2 separate regions of the Homo sapiens genome follow, and region 2 is linked to region 1. Evidence: fine-mapped expression QTL. Tissue or cell type: whole blood. Region 1 holds a variant in brackets; the other region holds the start of a gene. All regions are shown on one strand. Distances are from middle to middle. Region 1 overlaps GNL3L (G protein nucleolar 3 like). Region 2 holds the start of GNL3L (G protein nucleolar 3 like).

Region 1 (2,588 bases):
TGGCTCACTGCAGTCTCCGCCCCCTGGGTTCAAGCGATTCTCCTGCCTCAGCTTCCTGAGTAGCTGGGATTACAGGCACCTGCCACCATGTCCGGCTCATTTTTGTATTTTTAGTAGAGACGATGTTTCGCCATGTTGGCCAGGCTGGTCTCAAACTCCTGACCTCAGGTGATCCACTTGCCTCGGCCTTCCAAAGTGCTAGGATTACAGATGTGAGCCACTGCACGTGGCCCCACCTGGGATCTTGATTGGGGCTCCTGAATGAGTATCTCTCTGTGTCCAGCTCCAGTCTAGGGTTGGGGGCAGGGATGAGCTAGGAGGCTCAACTACTAGCACAGTGGCTCTCAAACTTCAGCTCGCATCAGGATTCCCTGGAGGGTTTGTTAAAACACAGATTTCTGTGCCCCTCCCTCATAGTTTCTAATTGAGTAGGTCTTCTGTGGGGCCTGTTAGAATTTGTATTTCTAACAGGTTCCCAGCTGATGCTATTTCTCTGGGGATCACACTGGGAGAACCACTGGCCTGCCTAGTCTATGTATCAAATAACGACCATTTATTTATCAGGTACTCTCTATGTGTTAGGTAGCTTGCAGGCTATATATCAATAGGCAATATACTCAAAATCCTACACGTACAAGAGGATATACAGTAAAATCTCTCCCACCCGCTAGTCATCCAGACCGCCCCCTCGTCAGCCAGTTAGTTTATTGTGTCTTTTCTGAGACACAAGCAAATATCTATATATTCTTTGTTCTCTTTTTCCACACAAATGCCAATCTACTGGACACATGGTTTTGCCCTATCATTTTTCCACTCACTATGTCTTAGGGATATGTCTATGTTAATACACAAAAGAACTTCTTCCCCTCGTTTTAATGGTGGTACATTGTGTAGCTGGCCCATTTGGGTTTCCATGCTGTACTTTTCACTAACTCATTGCAAAAGTCTTCCCCTTATTTGATAAGTGAGAAAACTGAGGTCCAGAGACATTAAGTGACACGCTAAAGGTAAGACAACTTGTAGTTGATGGAGCCAAAATACAGACTTTGGGTTGATTGACCCCAACAGCCCTATTCTTTGAACTAGATTGTGTTCTGTAACCAAACATACACAATCAGACATTCACTCTTGGCCTGGCTCCACACTGAGTCCTGGGAATTCAGATGAATTGCCTTTGAACTCCTAGTCTTATTAGGGAGTGAGGAGGAGACAAGAAAACAGACCTTGGCAGCACGAGCACATAGTAATCACGTTGAAGACCCAGCAAGCACAGTGAGGGAACCTAACCCAGCCTGGGGATGGTGGTTGGATAGGGGTGATCAGAGAAGGCCTCCTGGAGGAGGTGAAGTCTGGGGGGCATCCTGAGGAACAACAGGGTGTGTCTGGGGGATGGGAGGTGTGCGTGGTGAACGTTCAGGCTTATGGCGAACATACAGC[C/T]GTGTTGCCCTTTGCTGTGAGAGCTTTGTTTTGAGGGTAATGGTAGAGCACTAAGTTTGACATAGTAAAAGAAAATTATTGCTTTGGTATTTGGACAAAAATACTTGGAGCCCAGTGAGTCTGAAACCCTGAGATAGAAGCTGTGTTGGGATGATCATTTCACAGATAGAAAAATGGATTGTCTACCTGTGAAGCTGAGCAGTGGCTTCCAGCACTCACCAGTTTTGTGGTAGCGTTTGGGGGTAAGTGAGCCAGTTCAGGAGCTTGGTGTAGACCAAGGTAGATGTAGGCCAGCGTCAGCAGGCCTCCTGGTGGCAAGCCAGCCACCAAAAGATTGCCTGTATTTCTCCATTTGCAGATAAAATCGCCAGCAAGCTGTCTGATTCCATGATGTCTGCTCTCGACCTCTCTGGCAATGCTGATGATGGTGTTGGTGACTAATCGACTGATCTCACTTCCCTTCCGCTCCAAGCACCAGTTCCGGTGGTACGGGGGAATACCAGTGAAATAGTTTGGTTCTCCCTGAAGCATCTGCATATTGAAAGAACGCTTTCCCCACTGTGTGTCTTCTCCCCCTCCTCCAGTAAAAACAGTCCCGGCTAGGTGCTGTGGCTCACGTCTGTAATCCCAGCACTTTGGGAGGCCGAGGTGGGCAGATCACCTGAGGTCAGGAGTTCGAGACCAGCCTGGCCAACATGGTGAAACCCCGTCTCTACTAAAAATACAAAAAAATTTAGCCGTGCTTAGTGGCACCTATAATCCCAGCTACTTGGGAGGCTGAGGCAGGAGAATCGCCTGAACCTGGGAGACTAAGGCAGGAGAATCGCCTGAACCTGGGAGGCAGAGGTTGCAGTGAGCCCAGACGGCACCATTGCACTCTAGCCTGGGCAACAACACGAAACTCCGTCCCAAAAAAAAAAAAAAAAAAAAAATCCCAAGGGGCTGCAGCTGCCAAACCCAATACCCTCTATTTAACCCCTACTCTGTTTTACAAGAGAAATAAAAGAAGTATCAGCAGAGCTCAGGTGCTAACACCTGTTGAGGGCTGACCTACAAAACTCTGCCTACAAAACTCTCTTAGACAGGTGAATATGCCACTAGAAGTTAGGTTGCTGGTAGACCTGGGGGTCCCTGCGGGAGGGTGATGGTTT
Region 2 (3,022 bases), 30 kb before region 1:
CCCAATGCCATCTACTAAACAGCCCATTTCCCATTTTTTGTGGTGCAGGCCTGTAAACTCACCCATTTAACAAACAGTTGTTGAAGCCTGCCTCATACCAGTCTTGTGCTGGGTGTTGTTGAAAGCTTGAAGATACATGGCCCCTGCTCTCAGGGAGTTCACCCTCCTGTGGAGACACAGTCACATAAACAACTACAGTATTGTGATAAGTGCTAGCTTAGCTGTATAGGTAAGGTGCTCTGGGTTTCTAACTCATCTGCGAAAGTCAGAGAAGGTTTCATCGAAGTGACAAGAGTTAGGTCTTAGAGAAACAGAGCAAAATTGCAAATGCAGGGGGAAAGGTGAAAGTGGTCAGGGCTGGTTTCAGGTCCAGAGGAATTTCATGTGTCTCTAGGATGAGAGGTTAGAAGCCCTCCAACGATGTAGAGAGGTAGTGAGTCCTGTTTATGTAAGGGATAAAGGGACAGATGGAGTCATTTTCAGCCCGTCTGTGCTTGAAGTGGAGAAACAAACCCACCCTCGGAGGCACAGAGTTCCACCTACTCTGTGCCCCACCCCAGGGTTTAGGCTTGAGGAAGAGGAGGGGCTGGAATTAAACCATCAAGAAGAAAACATTTGCAGACTAATATTTACTATTTTGTGGGGGAGACCTCACTTCCCAGCCAGCTCCTTGAGATGGCTTCAGAAACCCCTACTTGCCCCACTCCAGAGATATAAATTCATTCCCTTCTGCAGACGCTGCTCCGGGATTGAGGGAAGGATGGAGTAGGAGGGGAAGAAGGCAAAAGGGTGGGAGAGGCTTCTAGTGTGGGAGAGGCTTCTAGTCGTTCTGGCTCCTGCTCCAGCTCGGGTTGGGTATGGCCATAGATCTGAACGTATGCAGAAAAAGCTAGGAGTGCTCAGGGATGGTCTGGGGCTCAAGGACCCGGGAAGGTGGTTGGGAATAGCTAACCAATTCACTTCAGGTGGGGAAATACTCGGCCAGACACGTGACCCAGGCGGCCATTTTCTCACACCCTGCTGTCGCCATCTTCCAGGCAGACAAAGACACCATCCCCCACCCTTGTCTGATTCGGGCGTGGTGACTGCCTGGTTATTGAGATTTGGGAGCACGCATATTTAACCCCAGACAGATGCCCGCAGACAAAATTTTGGCTTGCAAGTAAGGTATATGGCCGCACCAGTCGACCCGCCGCTTCTTCCCGGTCATTTCCCCGTCCTCCTTCTCCCTCCTCCGCTATTTCCTTAACTACGGGGCAGGCAGGAGGCGGGGCCAGCGTGGTCGCGAAGAAGGGACGGGCGGGCGTGAGCTGTCAGTCAGAAGCTCCGCCCCCCCCCCCCCCCCCCCGCGGAGACCGCACGGTGGGCGGAGTCGGGCGCCGCCGGCCTGGGATCCGGAAGTCGGAGCCTAGCTGCGCGAGAGTTTCTGCTCGCTCAACCGAGTTGTCGTGTTGCCCTCGCTTCTCAGATCCCCGCCGGAAGTGTAAGTAAGAAACTTCTCTCCTCTTTTCTCACAATGTGCGCTCACCTAGACGGCCGGGCAGTTAGGATCGTCTATTGGATGTGAAACCAGAGATGCCCGCCAACCTGGAATAGAGAGGTAAACAGCAGGATCCCTTCCAGGGTAGAAGGGACCGGAAGAGGGGCAGGGATCGCGGCACACGTGGAGACGCGCCGAATTGCCTTTTCGCGGAGTGGAGTTTGCCGGGAGAGGGGCATTGCCCCATCCCACCTAGAAAGGTGTAGACCCGGGACACACTGTGTAGAGAGGCACAAACTTCACTTGTGTGGTGAAGCGTTGATCGTCCTCAAGATAGTGAGGCTTCATTCTGCATTCACCTTGTATAGACAGGAGTCGACCCACCAAAGGCATGGGGGACATCCACCCCAACCGTGTAGAGACATCTCCCTCCACCCAGCTGAGCAGCGCAGACTTCTCCCGACTTAAGGCACTTCCTTGGCTTGGCTCTAGACAGCCGTCTCGAGGCACCTCCTCAGGACAGACAGAGGCTTTGATGTATCTGCCCCCATACCAGCATAGAGGAGCTTAGAAACATTTAATATACAGAGGGAGGGCACCTCCTCCCCATACGCGTAGACTCAGAGCCCTCAGTATCGCTCCCCAACTCACCCGTCCCCAAAGTGGTTGCAGTTACAGGCCTCAGCTTATGGACAACTAAGCCAATTGCCCCCTCCTCTTAGGTTAGAGTGAGTCCCCATTGTGGAGAATCAGACCTGATCCCTACTTCCGTAGCCCCCGTTTTACCGAATGTGTAATTTTTCGAAGCACCCAACATGCTTCGAAGCAAACAGGAACAGACCTTAATCCATGAAGAGACAGTCAGGTCTGCCCCTTGAGGGGCCGTGGGGGTAGAGGGGCTCAGATGTGTTCCTCTCCCTTTGAGGTAGACACAGATCATCCCCCTACCTCCCCCTACCTCCCCCAAAGATTTAGAATCACTAAATGTAGCAAGGGAGATACCCCACAGGAGCAGATATGCAGGTCTCCCTCCCTGTAATGTTGAGAGGGAGTGACATCGCTGATTACCTGGCAGTTCAGTGCGTATGGTCTCTCCCCTTTACCCAAGGTAGTGGAGCTCAGATCTGTTTCTCTCCACCCAGGGTAGAATCACAGACGCCCCCACCCCCAAGTATTAGGGCTGATCTATTAATTTATAGCTGCATTGCCAGCCCCCTCCACACACCACCCATGCAGAGAACCAGAGCCCCTATTTCTTTCAGTGTTAGTGTGCCGCTGACTTCAACCAGCATAAAAGATGAAAGTTGTCACAGTCCACCTTCCATAGAAGGGTCCAGAATAGCTCACTGCAGGTAAGGTGCAGACCCGCTTATTCAAAGCTGCATAGTTGTGGAATCAGGCATATCGATCCTGTACCACAGCCCTCTCCAGGGTGAAGAGACGCAGGACCCATCCCCACAATCTAGAGATAAACAGATCTGTGATTCTTTCCCCATGCAGCAGAGATGCACACAGCCACTTTGTGGGTTTCCCCAGTTTCTC

What was found. PIP is the estimated chance that this variant, and not a neighbour inherited with it, causes the effect.
Region 2: it holds the start of GNL3L, and the variant in region 1 is fine-mapped to the expression of GNL3L in whole blood (TOPMed, PIP 0.99).

The regions. Positions count from the first base shown.
Region 1 is chrX:54,558,725-54,561,312 of GRCh38, forward strand. It overlaps GNL3L (G protein nucleolar 3 like), which reads left to right. Exons shown (of 16, transcript NM_001184819.2): 16 at 1,796-2,588. The coding sequence ends at 1,878. Among named protein-coding and RNA genes, the nearest start is that of GNL3L, 30 kb to the left of the region's middle. The variant C/T (reference allele first, on the strand shown) is at 1,438.
Region 2 is chrX:54,528,820-54,531,841 of GRCh38, forward strand. It overlaps GNL3L (G protein nucleolar 3 like), which reads left to right and starts at 1,400. Exons shown (of 16, transcript NM_001184819.2): 1 at 1,400-1,600. RefSeq lists enhancers at 801-1,321, 976-1,025, 1,476-1,535, 1,546-1,805.